2 separate regions of the Homo sapiens genome follow, and region 1 is linked to region 2. The links come from fine-mapping of genetic effects on gene expression. A gene starts in region 2. The other region holds a variant in brackets. All regions are shown on one strand. Distances are between the middles of the regions.

What was found. PIP is the estimated chance that this variant, and not a neighbour inherited with it, causes the effect.
Region 1: its variant is fine-mapped to the expression of SDF2 in unexposed skin (GTEx, PIP 0.95).

The regions. Positions count from the first base shown.
Region 1 is chr17:28,842,701-28,852,100 of GRCh38, reverse strand. FAM222B (family with sequence similarity 222 member B) reads left to right here and starts at 9,311. Exons shown (of 3, transcript NM_001077498.3): 1 at 9,311-9,400. RefSeq lists silencers at 3,241-3,290, 9,343-9,400 and an enhancer at 9,218-9,400. The variant C/T (reference allele first, on the strand shown) is at 4,784.
Region 2 is chr17:28,656,670-28,666,069 of GRCh38, reverse strand. SDF2 (stromal cell derived factor 2) reads left to right here and starts at 4,164. Exons shown (of 3, transcript NM_006923.4): 1 at 4,164-4,344. The coding sequence starts at 4,194. SUPT6H (SPT6 homolog, histone chaperone and transcription elongation factor) reads right to left here and starts at 3,865. Exons shown (of 37, transcript NM_003170.5): 1 at 3,728-3,865. RefSeq lists enhancers at 3,075-3,749, 3,847-3,916, 3,278-4,477.

The DNA of each region.
Region 1 (9,400 bases), 190 kb before region 2:
CCACCGCGCCAGGCCACGTTGCTTTTTTTAATTAAAAAAAAATTTTTTTGAGCCACAGTCTCACTCTGTTGTCTGAGCTGGAGTGTAGTGGTTTAATTTTGGCGCACTGCAACCTCCACCTCCTGGGCTCAGGTGATTCCCCCATTTTAGCCTCCCAGGTAGCTGGGACTACAGATGTGCCTGACCACGCCCAGCTAATTTCTGTTTTTGGTTTTTTTTTTTTTTTTGAGATGGAGTCTTTCTCATTGCCCAGGCTGGAGTGCAGTGGTGCGATCTCAGCTCACTGCAACCTCCACCTCCCTGGTTCAAGTGATTCTCCTGGCTCAGCCTCCCGAGTAGCTGGGATTACAGGTGCCCGCCACCACACTGGCTAATTTTTGTATTTTTAGTAGAGACAGGGTTTCGCCATGTTGGCTAGGCTGGTCTCAAACTCCTGACCCGGTGATCTGCCCGCCTTGGCGTCCCAAAGTGCTGGGATTACAGGGATGAGTCACTGCACCTAGCCTAATTTCTGTATTTTTTATAGAGACAGGCTGTCACCATGTTGCCCAGGTTGGTCTTTTGTTTGTTTGTTTGTTCGTTTGAGACTCCCAGGCTGGAGTGCAATGGCATGATCTTGGCTCACTGCAACCTCTGCCTCCCGGGTTCAAGCTATTTTCCTGCCTCAGGCTCCCAAGTAGGTGGGGTTACAGTCTTCTGCCACCACGCCCGGCTAATTTTTTGTATTTTTAGTAGAGATGGGGTTTCACCATGTTGGCCAGGCTGGTCTCGAACTCCTGACCTCAGGTGATCCACCCACCTCGGCCTCCCAAAGTGCTGGGCTTACAGGTGTGAGCCACCATGCCTGGCTTGGCCCAGGCTGGTCTTGAACTCCTGGGCTCAAGTAAGCCATCTGCTTTGACCTCCCAAAGTGCTGAGATTACAGGTGTGAGTTACTGCCCCTAGCCTTGGAACATTTTTTTGTTTTGTTTTGTTTTGTTTTGAGATGGAGTCTCCCTCTGTCGCCCAGGCTGGAGTGCAGCGGTGCGATCTCAGCTCACTGCAACCTCCACCTCCTGGGTTCAAGCAATTCTTCTGCCTCAGCCTCCTGAGTAGGTGGGATTACAGGCGCACCCCACCAAGCCCGGCTAATTTTTGTAGTTTTAGTACAGACGGGGTTTCACCATATTGGCCAGGCTTGTCTCAAACTCCTAACCTTGTGATTTGCCCACCTTGGCCTCCCAAAGCGTTGGGATTACAGGTGTGAGCTGCCATGCCTGGCGGAACATTTTTTTACAATTTTTGATTTTTATAGAAAGAACCTGTTCAAAATTGGTCAGACACTGCACACGAGAAGTTTCTAGAACCACAATGATGAAAACAACAAAAACCGACAGACAGAAGAAAATAGGCAAACAGACAGAACCTACAAACAGAACAAACAGAACAAAAATACCCGAGACTAAACTGTTTCAAAATCAAGGTCCCAGTTGACCAAAGGATTCTAAAGAAACTCATGTGGCCGGCCGGGCGCGGTGGCTCAAGCCTCTAATCCCAGCACTTCGGGAGGCCGAGGTGGGCGGATCACAAGGTCAGGAGATCGAGACCATCCTGGCTAACACGGTGAAACTCTGTCTCTACTAAAAATACAAAAAAGCCGGGCGTGGTGTCAGGCACTTGTAGTCCCAGCTACTTGGGAGGCTGAGGCAGGAGAATGGCGTGAACCCAGGAAGCGGGGCTTGCAGTGAGCCGAGATCGCACCACTGCACTCCAGCCCGGGCGACAGAGCAAGACTCTGTCTTAAAAAGAAAAAAAAAAAGAAACTCATATGGCCAAGGGTGAGGAGACTCCAATGCCTGAGCAAGTACCCAGAGTGGAAGGAAAAACAGTTCAGAAATTCAAATCGCAATCCCTGCCCGCTGGCCCCTCATGCTATCAAGAGTGAGGCAAAGGGCTTCACAGCTTTATGGGGCAGAGAAGAGAGTGATGACAATAGGACAATAGCTTAAATAATGGGAGGAGGGGGAATTTTTTTTTGAGACAGAGTTTCACTCTTGTTGGCCAGGTTGGAGTGCAATGGCATGACCTCGGCTCACTGCAACCTCTGCCTCCTGGGTTCTAAGTGATTCTCCTGCCTTAGCCTCCTGAGTAGTTGGGATTACAGGCATGCGCCACCACGCCTGGCTAATTTTTTGTATTTTTAGTAGAGACGGGGTTTCTCCATGTTGGTCAGGCTGGTCTCGAACTCCCAATCTCAGGTGATCCGCCCTCCTCGGCCTCCCAAAGTGCTGGGATTACAGGCGTGAGCCACTGCGCCTGGTGAGGAGGGGAATTTTTACATTTCAACTTTTTGTTTTCTCTTCCCTTATAGGGAAAGAGGAGAGAGTGGTAGCTTGAAGTTAAGGAGAAAACAGTGATTTTTTTTCTTCTTCTTTAATGTAGAAAACATCTAGGAATGGCAGGCTGTAATGAAAAAAATGCCAAATTTGGCCACTTCCTAAAGAGGAGGTGGGCGCTTGTGTGGGTTGGTTATGAGAGTTACCAACCTTGGGTGTTGCAGCTTCTTGGAAGAAAACACTCCAGATACAAAGATTTGAGGGTGAGAGAGTAGAAGGGGGGCCAGAATGGGCAACCCTTAAGTGGTACCAAAATTAGCTGCGGCCTGCTCCCTGCTGGTGAGTTCCTGGAGTGTAGAGAATAGCAGGGAAGGAATTGGGGTAGAAGAGAAAATAAGTTGATATGCTGATTTAAAAAAAACAACTCTACTCAAGGCTCCATGGCCCCGGGTCCGAAGAGTAGAAAATCGCTAAGTGTCAATTACAGTGCTTTCTTGGGTCATCCCCCACTTTTTTTTTTTTTTTTTGAGACGGAGTCTCGCTGTCTCCCAGGCTGGAGTGCAGTGGCGCAATCTCGGCTCACTGCAAGCTCCGCTTCCCGGGTTCTCGCCATTCTCCTGCCTCAGCCTCCCCAGTAGCTGGGACTACAGGTGCCCGCCACCACGCCCGGCTAATTTTTTGTATTTTTAGTGGAGACGAGATTTCACCATGTTAGCCAGGATGGTCTCGATCTCCTAACCTCGTGATCCTCCCGCCTCGGCCTCCCAAAGTGCTGGGATTATAGGCGTAAGCCACCGCGCCCGGCCGGGTCATCCCCCACTTAACATGAGCTCAGTTCTGGTGGGGAATCAGTGCTGCCAGGACTAGGGGTATGGGCTGGTGGCCCAGTCTAGACTCTTGGCTCCCAGGGGAGAGGGGAAGGTGGCGCCCCCTGCTGGAGACTATATGACAACAACATATATTCCTATATTTGAACCACTGCGGGTCTTCTGAGCCATTTCCCTACTTGAATTTCTTTTTTTCTTTCTTTGAGACAGTCTTGCTCTGTCGCCCAGGCTAGAGTGCAGTGGCCCGATCTTGGCTCACTGCAACCTCCGCCTCCCTGGTTCAAGCGATTCTCCTGCCTCAGCCTCCCAAGTAGCTGGGATTACAGGTAGCCACCACCACACCGGCTAATTTTTTTATTTTTAGTAGAGACACACTTTCACCACCTTGGCCAGGCTGGTCTTGAATTCCTGACCTCGTGATCCACCTTCCTCAGCCTCCCAAAGTGCTGCGATTACAGGCGTGAGCCACCGTGCCCGGGCCCCTACTTGAATTTCTTACCAAGGGCAGAATAGTGGATTTTTCCCCTGCCAATCATTAATTCATTATATACAATATAGTTATCCATAGAAACACCCCTACTGCAAACTCAGACCATGTGGTTGGATGAGGCTCACCCCAGGCAAGGAGCACACAACTCGGAACCAACTCAATCAGCGTATAACATTCTCTAGCCCATGATGATTGTTTTAGAGATGGGCACATAACCCAGGGAGATAAAACGTACAAGGAGAATTTTGCTTCTTTCCCACTGGAGCTGGATGTAAGAAGACATAATATCTGGAGCTGCTGCAGTCATGTTGATACCAGAAGGGGAGAGCCAACCCAGAGAAAGATGTCATTTATTCGCTCCTGAACAAAAATCTATTGAGTACTTGCTATGTGCCAGACACCGCTCTAGGGTTCAAGTCACCCACCTCAGCCTTCCAAAGTGTTGGGATTTCAGATGTGAGCCAACATGCGCAGGCTCCATCTGCTTCTCTCTCCTTCATCTTCACTACACTATTTTGTTTTCTTTCTTTCTTTTCTTTTCTTTTTTTTTTTTTTGAGGCGGAGTCTCGCTCTTTCGCCCAGGCCGGAGTACAGTGGCGCTATCTCGGCTCACTGCAAGCTCCGCCTCCCGGGTTCACACCATTCTCCGGCCTCAGCCTCCGGAGTAGCTGGGACTATAGGCGCCCGCCATGGCGCCCGGCTCATTTTTTGTATTTTTAGTAGAGACGGGGTTTCACCATGTTAGCCAGAATGGTCTCGATCTCCTGACCTCGTGATCTGCCCACATCGGCCTCCCAAAGCGCTGGGATTACAGGAGTGAGCCACCGCGCCCGGCCTTGTTTTTCTTTATTTAATTAATTTATTTATTTATGTTTGAGATAGAGTCCTTCTCTGTCGCCCAGGCTGCAGTGCAGTGGCACGATCTCGGCTCACTGCAACCTCCACTTCCCAGATTCAAGCAATAGTCCTGCCTTAGCCTCCGGAGTAGGTGGGATTACAGGCTTCCGCCACAATGCCCGGCTAATTTTTTGTATTTTTAGTAGAGATGGGGTTTCTCCATGTTGGCCAAACTGGCCTCGAACTCCTGACCTCGTGATCCGCCTGCCTCAGCCTCCCAAAGTGCTGGGACTATAGGCATGAACCACCACGCA[C/T]GGCCCACTACACTATTTTAGTAAGGAAGATAAAGTTACACCTTGTAACTTGGGGTCACGGAAGTTTTAGATTTTTTCTTTTTCTTTTTTTTTTCTTTTGAGACGGAGTCTCTGTCGTTCAGGCTGGAGTGCAATGGCACTATCTCGGCTCACTGCAACCTGTGCCTCTGGGGTTCAAGCGATTTTCCTGCCTCAGCCTCCCGAGTAGCTGGGATCACAGGCATGTTCCACCATGCCCGGCTAATTTGGTATTTTTAGTAGAGATGGGGTTTCTCCATGTTGGTCAGGCTGGTCTCGAACTCCTGACCTTAGGTGATCTACCCACCTAGGCCTCCCAAAGTGCTGGGATTACAGGCGTCAGCCACCACGCCCAGCGCTAATTTTTAAATCTTTTGCAGAGACAGAGTCTCACTACGTTGCCCAGGCTGGTCACGAACTCCTGGCCTCAAATGGTCCTCTGCCTTGGCCTCCCCAAGTGCTGAGTTTACAGGCATGAGACACCACGTTTGGCCTTTCCCCAGATATTTTTGTTCTTCGGATGGTTGAATTCCTAGATGCTGAACCCTTGGATATTGAGGACCAATATTGAGCAGGAGAGGGCTGTGGGGTTAATAGAGGATTTTCTTTTCTTTTTTAAGAGGAAAATTTTATTCTTACTGAGATGGAGTCTGGCTCCCCTAGGCTGGAGTGCAATGGTTGAATCTCACTGCAACCTCCGCCTCCCAGACCCAAGCAATCCTCGCTCTTCAGCCTCCCAAGTAGCTGGGACTACAGATGCGGGCCACCACACCCGGCTAATTTTTTGGTAATTTTTTTGTACAGACGGGTTTTCACCATGTGGCCCAGCTTGGTCTCAAACTCCGCCTACTCCACCTCCCAAAGTGATGACATTACAGGCGTGAGTCACCGTACCTGGCCTGAACATTTTTTTTTTAATTAAAAAAATTTTTTTGAGACACAGTCTCACTCGGTTCCTTAGGCTGCGGTGTAGTGTAGTCTAGGCTCACTGCAACCTCTGCCTCCTGGGTTCAAGTGATTCTCCCACCTCAGCCTCCCAAGTAGGTGGGACCACAGGTGTGCACCACCACATCCAGCTAATTTTTTTTTTTTTTTTTGAGATGGAGTCTTGCTCTGTCGCCCAGGCTGGAGTGCAGTGGCATGGTCTCGGCTCACTGCAACCTCCACCTCCTGGGTTCACGCCGTTCTCCTGCCTCAGCCTCCTGTGTACCTGGGACTACAGGCGCCCGCCACCATGCCCAGCTAATTTTTTGTATTTTTAGTAGAGACGGGGTTTCACCGTGTTAGCCAGGATGGTCTCGATCTCCTGACCTCGTGATCCACCCGCCTTGGCCTCCCAAAGTGCTGAGATTACAGGCGTGAGCCACCAGGCCCAACCCTTATTTATTTATTTATTTTTCTTTTTGAGATGGAGCCTTGCTCTGTCACCCAGGCTGGATTGCAGTGGCGCAATCTTGGCTCACTACAACCTCCACCTCCCGGGTTCAATTGATTGTCCCACCTCAGCCCCCCAAGTAGCTGGGACTACAGGCACCCGCCACCATGCCCGGCTAATTTTTTGTATTTTTAGTAGAGATGGGGTTTCACCGTGTTAGCCAGAATGGTCTCGATCTCCTGACCTTATGATCTGCCCACCTCGGCTTCCCAAAGTGCTGGGATTACAGGTGTGACCCACTGTGCCTGGCCTATTTATTTATTTTTTCTTTTTTTCCTTTTTTTTTTGAGACAGAGTCTCGCTCTGTCGCCAAGGCTGGAGTGCAGTGGCGCGATCTCGGCTCACTGCAAGCTCCGCTTCCCAGTTCATGCCATTCTCCTGCCTCGGCCTCCCGTGTAGCTGGGACTACAGGCGCCCACCACCACGCCCAGCCAATTTTTTTGTATTTTTGTATTTTTTTTTTTTGAGATGGAGTCTCGCTCTGTCCCCAGGCTGGAGTGCAGTGGCACCGTCTTGGCTCACTGCAAGCTCTGCCTCCGGGCTTCACGCCATTCTCCCGCCTCAGCCTCCCAAGTAGCTGGGACTGCAGGGGCCCGCCACCATGCCCGGCTAATTTTTTATATTTTTAGTAGAGATGAGGTTTCACCGTGTTAGCCAGGATGGTCTCGATTTCCTGACCTCGTGATCCGCCCACCTCGACCTCCCAAAGTGCTGGGATTACAGGCCTGAGCCACCGCGCCCGGCCCTATTTATTTTTTTAATTGAGATGGAGTCTCACTCTGTTATCCAGGCTGGAGTGCAGTGGTGCGATCTCGGCTCATTGTAACCTCCGTTCCTGGGTTCAAGCGATTTTCCTGCCTCAGCCTCCTGAGTAGCTGGGACTACAGGTGCATGCCACCATGCCCAGATAATTTTTGTATTTTTTCAGTAGAGACAGGGTTTCACCGTGTTGGCCAGGCTGGTCTCGAATTCCTGGCTTCAAGTGATCCGCCCGCCTTAACCTCCCAAAGTGCTGGGTTTACAGGCATGAGCTATCTTGCCTGGCCACTATTTTTTAGATTTTTTGTAGAGATGAGTCTCCCTATGTTGCCCAGGCTGGTCTCTAACTCCTGGGCTCAAGCAATCCTCCCAACCTGGCCTCCCAAAATGTTGGGATTACAAGCATAAGTCACTATGCCCAGCTTTATTTTTAATTTTTTTTTCTTTTGAGACGGAGTCTCGCTCTGTCGCCCAGGCTGGAATGCAGTGGCTTGATCTCGGCTCACTGCAAGCTCCGCCTCCCGGGTTCACGCCATTCTCTTGCCTCAGCCTCCTGAGTAGCTGGGACTACAGGCGCCCGCCACCACGCCCGGCTAATTTTTTGTATTTTTAGTGAGACGGGGTTTCACCGTGTTAGCCAGGATGGTCTCGATCTCCTGACCTCATGATCCGCCCGCCTCGGCCTCCCAAAGTGCTGGGATTACAGGCGTGAGCCACTGCACCTGGCCTATTTAAATTTTTTTAACATTCCTCATTGAGCACTCAACTTGTCTTTTTTTCTTCTCTTTTTCCCCCTTACGTTGTATCTTGGGCCTTATGTGTCCAAACTCTGAAGAGAGGAGACCAGCGCTGGAGTTGAGAGAGAAAAAAGAGCCATGGTGATGAGGAGAGAGTTTAGTCCTGTACCTCCTCTTGCCTGCTGCTTTCAAGTCTGTTTTGTTGAATTCTCAGGACTCGATTGAGCTTAGTCTCTTGTCAGGCTATGCCAAAGCAGCACAGTAGTCTAGGGACTGACAGTTGGGCCTCACTGGACTTTAGTGGTTTTCTTTTACCAGTTTGAAAAAGGGCCAGGCTCACAGTGAGAGCTGGAAAGCAGGGGACTATTTGCCTGCGAATTCCTCAATAGCATACACGCGATGCCTAGAACATTTCTGTCCAATAAACAGCATGTGCTTGATAAACATACTGAACTTAGCGGTGTCCCCAGTGCATTCTAGGCGAGGTCACCTCCTTGACAAGGTCCCCAGGACTTCATTGCACCTCCTAGCTAGTAGCGTATTCTAGGATGGCAAAGCTGCCTTTACATAATTACCCCCGATACATTCTAGACACGATCATCTTGAAAGAGACCCAAATTTTACCAGGCATGGTGACTCAGGCCTGTAATCCCAGCACTTTGGGAGGCCGGGGCGGGCGAATCATCTGAGGTCAGGAGTTCGAGACCAGCCTGGCCAACATGGTGAAACCCCGTCTCTACTAAAAATACAAAAGTTAGCCAGGCGTGGTGGTGCAAGCCTGTAATCCCAGCTAGTCAGGAGGCTGAGGCAGGAGAATCGTTTGAACCCGGGAGGCGGAGGTTGCAGTGAGCTGAGATCGCGCCACTGCACTCCAGCCTGGGCAACAAGAGCAAAACTCCGTCTCAAAAAAAAAAAAAAAAAAAAAAGACCCAGGCTGGGCGCGGTGGCTCATGCTTGTAATCCCAGCGCTTTAGAAGGCTGAGGTGGGTGGATCACCTGAGGTCGGGAGTTCGAGACCAGCCTGACCAACATGATAAAACCCCGTCTCTACTAAAAATACAAAATTAGCTGGGCGTGGTGGTGCATGCCTGTAATCCCAGCTACTCGGGAGGCTGAGGCAGGAGAATCGCTTGAACCCGGGAGGCGGAGGTTGTTTGAGCCGAGATCACGCCATTGCACTCCAACCTGGACAACAAGAGCGAAACTTCGACTCAGAAAAAAAAAAAAAAAGACCCAAATTTATCATCAGTGGTCACCTCAGAGCACCTGAATTCAGGCCTTTAAGTGCAAGTAGGATGCAGAATTCTGGAAGAGCCAGTAAGTCTGTGGCTCCTTGGGGAAGCGCGATCCAAGGGTTTAGTAACCTAGGCACGGTACTCCAGAGGCGTACCCTGAGGCAGCCGCCAAATTCTCTAAGCCTCAGAATTCTTCAAGGCCAGCTCCCATGTCCACTAGAGACCCAGGGGTCCAGACCATCAGGCACTGAGGAAGACGCCCCCGGCAGGGGCTGCGCAGGCGCGTGCGGCCCGAAAGGGCCCAGGCGCTACACGCTGCGCAGGCGCAGGAGCGGCTCCGGGTAGTCCCCACAGCTGCGCCGGTGACTGAGGGGCCGGGCAGTGGAGAAGTGGTGGCGGCGGGCGGCGGGCGGCAAAGGAGCAGCCATGAGGG
Region 2 (9,400 bases):
TGTGGCAGGTACAGAGAAGGCCCAGGAGAGGAAGAATGGTTCATAAGGGTTGGAGAAGTCATAAGGATCTAGGCACTGGGAAGCCATTGCAGGGTTTTAAATGTAGAACTGAACTTAATCTACTTGCTAATCCAACAAAAACTTATTATTTTCTGAGATGGGGTCCTGCTCTGTCACCCAGACTGGAGTGCAGTGGTGTGATTACATCTCACTGCAGCCTCCACCTCCTGGGCTCAAGCCATAATCTCACCTCAGCCTCCCAGGTAGCTAGGACAAATACATATACATATACATATACGTTTTTTTGAGACAGAGTCTCGCTCCATTGCCCAGGCTTGGAGTGTAGTGGCACGATCTCAGCTCACTGCAACCTCCGCCTCCCAGGTTCAAGCAATTCTCCTGCCTCAGCCTCCCAAGTAGCTGGGATTACAGGCACCCACCACCACGTCCAGCTAATTTTTTCTTTGTATCTTTAACAGAGACGGGGTTTCACCATGTTGGCCAGCCTGGGCTCGAGCTCCTGACCTCAGGTGATCCGCCTGCCTCAGCCTCCCAAAGTGTTGGGATTATAGGCGTGAACCACCATGCCTGGCATAAATATGTATTTAATGAGTGCCTACCACATGCCAGGCACGTACAAGACTAGGTCCATGCCCCTAGGATGCCCGTATTCTGGTGCAGGAGACATATTGGCAACAAATAAAATAAACCTTGCTCTAAAAGCGAAGAAGGAAATGCATATTCTCATCTCATCTAAAGTGAGTTTACTTAGGCTGAGATGTCAATAGGTAGGATATGACCTGTAGAAGTAGGAGGAGAGGTTCCAGTAGAGAAAGTGGGCAAGAACATGGTATATAATAGGTGATGTCCTGAGGCTGATGGCACTAGAGCATGGTGAAGGCAGCAGCCTATGAGGGAGAGGTATGCTCAAGCAGGGCGTAAAGGCCATGGAAAGTCACTGGAGAGTTTTAAGTAGGGAAATGACATGATCTGCCCTGATCCAATTCTGTTACATGGAAAATGAACTGGAGGAAGATCTGAGTGGAAACCAGGGAAAACTGAAGATACTGTTGTGGTAGCCCAGGCAAAAGATGGTGGTGGCTTGGAATAAGGTGGTAAAAGTGAAGATGGAGAATAGAAGACAGATTACAAAAACATTCTGCAAGTGGAAGTGACAAGACTTACTGAAAGACTGGGGAAGAGGAGTAGTAAAGGAGAAGAACAAAGATGATTCTCAGAGGTCTATCTTTGGTAACCCTGCGGATAGGAGCACCACTCAGTGAAACGGGAGGATAAGGTTTGCAATGATGAGAAAACCAAAACTTTCTTTTGGTTATGTTAGCTTTGGGTGCCTAAGAAATATCCAAATGGAGATAATTAAACAGGCATTTTTGACGCGTGATTCTGCAACATAGAGGAGAGGGCTGGACTAGAGATTTAAACTTTGGAGTTGCCAACTTTCAGGTGGTAATTAAAGCCATGGGGCTGGGTTACCTAAAGGGAAGCATGTAGAAGGCTCGGGATTCCTGTGAGAATTCCAACATATGTAGATATACATATATTTTGAGACGGAGTTTTGTTCTGTTGCCCATGCTGGAGTGCAGTGGCATGATCTCTGCTCACTGCACCTCTGCCTCCCTGGTTCAAGTGATTCTCCTGCCTCAGCCTCCCAAGTAGCTGGGATTACAGGCGTGTCGCCACGCCCGGCTAGTTTTTGTATTTTTAGTAGAGATGGGGTTTCACCATGCTGGCCAGGCTGGTTGTGAACTCCTGACCTCAAGTGATCTGCCCACCTCGACCTCCCAAAGTGCTGGGATTATAGGCATGAGCCACTGCGACCAGCCCCAGCATTTAGACATTAGATAGAGAGCAAAAGTTGCTAGCAAATGAGACTCAGAAGGAACAGCCGGAGAAATGGAGAAAATCCAAGAGTGAAATGTCAATAAAGCCAAGATGAAAGTTTGGAGGCAGGAGTAACTATGTTGAATATTGCAGAGACAGAGGAATATGAGAACAAAGTATCCATTGGATTTGGCAACATAGAAGTCACTGGTGACCTTGATAAGAGCAACTTCAATGGAGTGGGCAAAGTAGATGTGGTGGCACTTGATTACTAGAAGCTGCCTCAGGAGGACTGCTTGAGCTCAGGAGTTCCAGGTGGCAGTGAGCTATGATGGGGCCACTGCACTCCAACCTGGGCAACAGAGCAAGACCCTGTCTCCACAAAAAAAAAAAAAAAAATGGAGTGGGCAGAAGAGAAGCCAGATTGGTATAAAATGAAGAGTGAATGAAAGTTGAGAAAGCTGAGTTGGTACAGGTAGAAATCTATGAATGGAAATTTAAAAAATTGGCATGGTAATTGGAGAGGGATGTGAAGGATACCAGAACATAATTTGTATGCTGATGGGAACAGTTTCAGGGAGAGACAGGATTTGGTGACTGATTTTATTGGGAAATAGTGGACAGGAAGGAAGACAAGGATTACAGGCAGGACTGATGGTAGTGCCATTTATTAAGGTCAAGAATATAGAATCAGGGCAAACGTATTTGCCTACAAAGATCATGTTTCCACCACACTAGGTAGGCTTTCAGAGGAAGAACTGTAAAATTTGACTAAGCCTCTCCAGACGGTACCACTTTCTGATGTAATTAATCTCCTGATGAAGTTAAAACCTCCTAGAGTTGCAAGGCTATGCTAATCCAATCTAGCAGCCACACAAGCCAAGTGAATAAAAATGTACTTGTACTGGTGAAAGGGACATTACTCGTAAAAAAGGGCTCTAAATTCACAGCTGATGGAAGAGCAGTTATGTTTCTGTAATCAAAACACTGAAGACTTACAAACTGGTAACTTCCAGATAAACAGTGGAACCAGACATTTTTCCGAAGAAATTAATCAAATTCAATATTGTTTACACTCCCTAATGCTCATTAATGATGTAGCTTCATACACCCTTGTTACTTTTGATATTACAGTGAATTTCCACGGAAGTATTTTCAGAGATCTTAGCCCTCTGAAATAAGTATCAGTTCTTGCAACAACCCAGGAAAATTAACTTCTCCAGCTGGTTCAAAGGAGTGCCTGAGGAGAAAGGTAGAAACTAGAAGATGGAGTTTTGACTTAATAACTAATTTTGATGTTCATGATAGGCCTCTGGCAAACGTTTGAGGAAATGAATCTATAGAGAATGGACGGGCTTTAGGACTTCTACAAGACCTTCGATCTTTAGAAAGGGATGAAGGATGCAACCATCTACAAAAAGTTCTATTTGTATTATTCAGCAATATGTAAAGAGCTGGAATTTGGCATCGCCCTCTAGCCTGATGGCCGAGCTGCTGAAAGCTCCACAGGATTCATATCCCCAGAACAAACAACTCGATCACCTGATCCTGGCTCAGAAGCCCCAGGTCCCTTCCATCCCCAATCCTTTTGCGTGGCCCAGTTTTAAAAACCTGCGGAGAGAAGGACGGGATGCCAGGAAGCCTGTTGATTCAACGTGCCACCCGATTCACGGGTTCCGGGTGTCACTGGGCTGGGAAAAGCTTTCGGACTCTGAGCAACTACAGCGCTTTCCTCCCCCTTCCCCCCATAGAGCAGGGAAGGCCAGGCTCCCCCTTCTTCCCGCATACGGCTCCCCACTGCCTCTTCCCTTACGTGACCAGGCCCTAGGAGCCCGGTTCCCCACCTGACTCCTGCGAGAAACACGCTCTCCAGTCGGAACTTTACCTGTCTGAAGCCCGCCGCTCCTCCAGTGCGCTAAGCCCCCACCGAGGAAAATGGAGTCGTCGAACCGAGACTGGGAAAAGATAGTACGGACCCACCGCACGGCCCCTCCGCCGCCACCGCCGCCGCTGCTGCGTCAACGTGCTACGTCATTTCCGGCTCCCTGTCACCGGGAGTGGGCGGGCCATTTCTTGTTCTCTCTCCCGCTCTCGGAAGCTTTCGTCTCGTGGGTGCGAAAGGTAACCGAAGCGGCTCAGGAAGGCAGCTGTCACTGAGCCCCTGGAACAGAGCGAGAGTATCGTAAGTAACCAGGCTCAGCCGGTTTCTCAGGCCGCTCTAGTCAAATAAACCATAAAGATCAGACTCGGGCTTCTTCACTTCCTTCTCTCCGTGGTTTCGCCATTAGCTTCCGGTTCCGGGGAGGGGCCGAGTTTTCTTCGAAGATTTGGGGCTCCGCGATACAGTTAGGATGGCTGTAGTACCTCTGCTGTTGTTGGGGGGTTTGTGGAGCGCTGTGGGAGCGTCCAGCCTGGGTGTCGTTACTTGCGGCTCCGTGGTGAAGCTACTCAATACGCGCCACAACGTCCGACTGCACTCACACGACGTGCGCTATGGGTCAGGTAATGCTGGGGACCGGGCTCGGGTGGGCTAGGGAGGACTCGGAGGCTCTGGAGGGGCGGGGCCTATAGAATATCTGACAGTGTGGTCTGGGAAAGTTAGGGGTTCCCTGGGAAGGTTCCTCAGGTCTAGAGAGTCGGAGAACTGAATTGTTCTAAGGCATCTTAATCGCAACACCACCTAATATTTGGTGAGCTACAGGCCAGGCACGTTACCTATGTCCTTTTTCCGATTATTAACATTGTTGTAAGGTGGACAGTATTGTTATCCTCATTTCACAGATGAGGAAACAGACGCAGAGAAATTAAATCGTTTATTCAAAGCCTTGCAGTTAGCAAATGACAAAGTCGGGGTTCTATCCAAATCTATCCAGGTTCAAAGCCTGCTTTAGAGACAAGAAAATTACAGTAAGTGCTGTGTCTGAAATTTTAAAGTTACAGTAAGTACTGTCTGTGAAACTTTAAACTCCAAGAGCTCACTCGTTGACTACAACCCTTTGTCTTCCAGCTCTTCTGCATCTTACACTTGCTCCTCAGTTTCCATCTTTGGCCCCCTTCTACCCAAACCTTAACCTCCTTCTTGTAAGAAACTTGGAGCAGTGACAGGAATTGCAGAGAAAACTGCTTTTTTTTTTTTTTTTTTTTAGCGTTTGAAATTAAAATGTTTAGTAATAAATTATTTGTGGATTCATTCAGCATAGGTCTTAATGAGTTCCTACTACATGGCTAGAATTGTACTACATACAGGAGATTCGGTGGTGATAATCAGTCAAGAAAATTACAATATAATAAAAACAGACTAAAAAAAGAAAGTCTTATCTGCCTGAAAAAAAAAGATAAAGTTAAAAAAAAAGAATGAAGGTCAGCTAGTGAGATGTGAGAGGCATCTAAGATAGCTGGTAGATTTTTGTCTTGAATGACTGATGATGCTGTTTGCTGAGGGAGGAAAGAGTTCTGTCAGGTGGGCTAGTCTGGTTCATGATTCCCAAAACCCATCTGATCAGTCAGACTAGGCAAGGACATGAGTTATCATCACTGCGATGTCTTAATAATTCTAGCACCCATTCAGTGAACACCTACCATGTTGTCAGGCTTATTTTTTACTTTGTTTTGGTTTCCTACTTTGGATCTACTGAATTAGAGTGGAGGTGGACAGAGGCTTGGCAGTAGCAATCTGTAGGTTTAAAAAGCTCTTCAGGTGGTTCTGATGGACAGCCAGATTTGGGAACCAGGTTCAGTCCGGAGCTCAGAAAAGGGATCTGTGCTGAGCCTGAGATACAACATTAAATATAACATCTTGTACAGACTGTGGTTGAAGATGTCAGGGTTGTAGATGAAATTGCCCAGAATGAACTGTGATTCTCTATCTGGGATTAATTTGAATAACTGGAGAAACTTGTTAAAAATACAAATGCTTTTGTCCTGACCCTCAACAATTGTTTAAGAACTACAGGTAGCCCTCTCCGTCTCCCTCTCTTGTCTCTTCTCTCTTTCCACGGTCTCCCTCTGTTGCCGAGGCTGGACTGTACTGCCGTGATCTCGGCTCGCTGCAACCTCCCTGCCTGGGGCTCCCGTGATTCTCCTGCCACGGCCTGCCGAGTGCCTGGGATTGCAGGCACACGCCGCCATGCCTGACTGGTTTTCGTATTTTTGGTGGAGACGGGGTTTCGCCGTGTTGGCTGGGCTGGTCTCCAGCTCCTGACCTCGAGTGATCTGCCTGCCTCAGCCTCCCGAGGTGCTGGGATTGCAGATGGAGTCTTGCTCACTCAGTGCTCAGTGTTGCCCAGGCTGGAGTGCAGTGGTGTGATCTTGGCTCACTACAACTTCCACCTCCCAGCCGCCTGCCTTGGCCTCCCAAAGTGCTAAGAGTACAGCCTCTGCCCGGCCGCCACCCCGTCTAGGAAGTGAGGAGCGTCTCTGCCTGGCCGCCCATCGTCTGGGATGTGAGGAGCGCCTCTGCCTGGCCGCCCCGTCTGGGATATGAGGAGGGCCTCTGCCCGGCCGCCACCCCGTCTGGGAAGTGAGGAGCACCTCTGCCCGGCCATCACCCTGTCTGGGATGTGAGGAGCGTCTCTGCCTGGCCGCCCTGTCTAGGAAGTGAGGAGCGCCTCTGCCTGGCCGCCCCGTCTGGGAAGTGAGGAGCGCCTCTGCCCGGCCGCGCCATCTGGGATGTGAGGAGTGCCTTTGCCCGGCTGCCACCCCATCTGGGAAGTGGGCTGCCCATTATCTGGGAGGTGAGGAGCACCTCTGCCCGGCCACCCCATCTGGGAAGTGGGGAGCACCTGGCCGCCCTGTCTGGGATGTGAGGAGCGCCTCTGCCCGGCCGCCACCCCATCTGGGAAGTGGGGAGCGCCTCTGCCCGGCTGCCCCGTCTGGGAAGTGGGGAGCGCCTCTGCCCGGCCGCCCTGTCTGGGAAGTGGGGAGCGCCTCTGCCCGGCTGCCCCGTCTGGGAAGTGGGGAGCGCCTCTGCCCAGCCGCCCCGTCTGGGAAGTGGGGAGCGCCTCTGCCTGGCCGCCACCCCGTCTGGGATGTGAGGAGCGCCTCTGCCCGGCCGCCACCCTGTCTGGGAAGTGAGGAGCGCCTCTGCCCGGCCGCCCATTGTCTGGGATGTGAGGAGCGCCTCTGCCCGGCCGCCCTTCGTCTGGGAGTTGAGGAGCACCTCTGCCTGGCTGTCCCATCTAGGAAGTGAGGAGCGCCTCTGCACGGCCGCCCCGTCTGGGAGGGGAGGAGCGCCTCTGTCCGGCCTCCCATCGTCTGGGATGTGAGGAGCGCCTCTGCCCGGCCACCCAGTCTGTTAAGTGAGGAGCTCCTCTGCCCGGCCACCCTGTCTGGGAAGTGAGGAGTGCCTCTGCCCGGCCGCCCCGTCTGGGAAGTGAGGAGCGCCTCTGCCTGGCCGCTGTGCAGTCTTCCAAGTGTGAAGTGACAGCCTTTCTGCAGGTGTACCCAACAGCACCGAAGAGACAGCGACCATCGAGAATGGGCCATGATGACGATGGCGGTTTTGTCGAAAAGAAAAGGGGGAAATGTGGGGAAAAGAAAGAGAGATCAGATTGTTACTGTGTCTGTGTAGAAAGAAGTAGACATAGGAGACTCCATTTTGTTCTGTACTAAGAAAAATTCTTCAGCTTTGGGATGCTGTTAATCTATAACCTTACCCCCAACCCCGTGCTCTCTGAAACGTGTGCTGTGTCAACTCAGGGTTAAATGGATTAAGGGTGGTGCAAGATGTGCTTTGTTAAACAGATACTTGAAGGCAGCATGCTCGTTAAGAGTCATCACCACTCCCTAATCTCAAGTACCCAGGGACACAAACACTGCGGAAGGCCGCAGGGACCTCTGCCTAGGAAAACCAGAGACCTTTGTTCACATGTTTATCTGCTGACCTTCTCTCCACTATTATCCTGTGACCCTGCCACATCCCCCTCTCCGAGAAACACCCAAGAATGAACAATAAATACTAAAAAAAAAAAAAAAAACTACAGGTAGAAACAGATGAAGGCCAGGCATAGAACTTTGGATAATCCCAAGGTATAAGGATTTGGAGGAAGAAGTGAACGGTTGAATAGAAAGCAGAAAATGTAGGAGACAAAATGTAGACCATGGTTTAGTGAAGCGTGGCTGTGAGGACCCAGAGAGCTGTAAGGCAGTAACCAGAAGTAGGAAGGGAGACTTGGTTTGCCTTTTCTGAAAAAAGATATAATAAAGTCATGAAAGGAGCTGATAGTTGGCTACATTTACCCGTGTAACTGGCAGTGACACAATTACGACTCATTGCAGCCTTGACCTCCTGGGCTCAAGCAATCCTCACATCTCAGCGTCCTGAGTAGCTGGGACTACAAGTGCACCCCACCACACCTGATTAATTTTTTGCATCTTTTGTAGAGATGGAGTTTTGTCAGTTGCTTAGGCTTGGTCTTGAATTCCTGGGCTCAAGCGATCTGCCCACCTTGACCTCCCAAAGTGCTGGGATTGACGGTGAGCCACTGTGCCCAGCTTCTTTTTTTTCTTTTAAATATAAAAATTTTTTTTTAGGCTGGGTGTGGTGGCTCACATCTGTAATCCTAGCACTTTGGGAGGCTGAGGCAGTTGGATTGCTTGAGCCCAGGAATTCGAGAGTAGCCTGGGCAACATGGCAAAAACCCATCTCTACAAAAAATAGAAAAATTAGCCAGGTGTGGTGGCAGGCGCCTGAAATCCCAGCTACTTGGGAGGCTGAGGTAGGAGGATCACCCGAGCCTGGGAGGTCAAGGCTGTGGCGAGCTGTGATCGTGCCACTGCACTCCAGCCTGAGTGACAAGAGGGATCCTGTATCAAAAAAAAAAAATACATATATATATATGTACGTTTAGAGACTGCATTTTGCTATGTTGCTGAGGCTAGTCTCGAACTCCTGGACTCAAGGGATCCTCCCCTCACCTTCCCAAAGCGCTTGGATTACAGGCATGAGCCACTGTGCCAGACCTCCAAGGATACATTTTTTGTTTTGTTTTTGTTTTTGTTTTGAGACAGAGTCTTGCCCTGCCACCTAGGCTGGAGTGCGGTGGTGTGATCTCGGCTCACTGCAACCTCCGCCTCCCGGATGCAAGCAATTCTTCTGCCTCAGCCTCCCAAGTAGCTGGGATTACAGGCACATGCGACCACGCCCAGCTAATTTTTATATTTTTAGTAGAGACGGGGTTTCACCATATTGGCCAGGCTGGTCTCGAACTCATGACTTTGTGTTCTGCCTGCCTCAGCCTCCCAAAGTGCTGGGATTACAGGCGTGAGCCACCGTGCCTTGCTTAAATAATACGTTTATAATAATTGACCACTTATGGGAGTTGGGAGCTGTAATGGCTGCTTAAAGTTGGCAACATAGTCTCATTTTAATTGTGAAATACAAAAATTTTTATCATAATAGTTAATGAACATGAATAATATTACAAACATGTTAAAATTATGTGATTAGACACATTAGGGGCTATCCAGGCTAGTGTGTATAGGTTACCACTGCCTGTGCCTCAAAAAACTCACATAGATTTGTGCCTTGGATATCCTTTGATGCAAATTCTTAGAATTT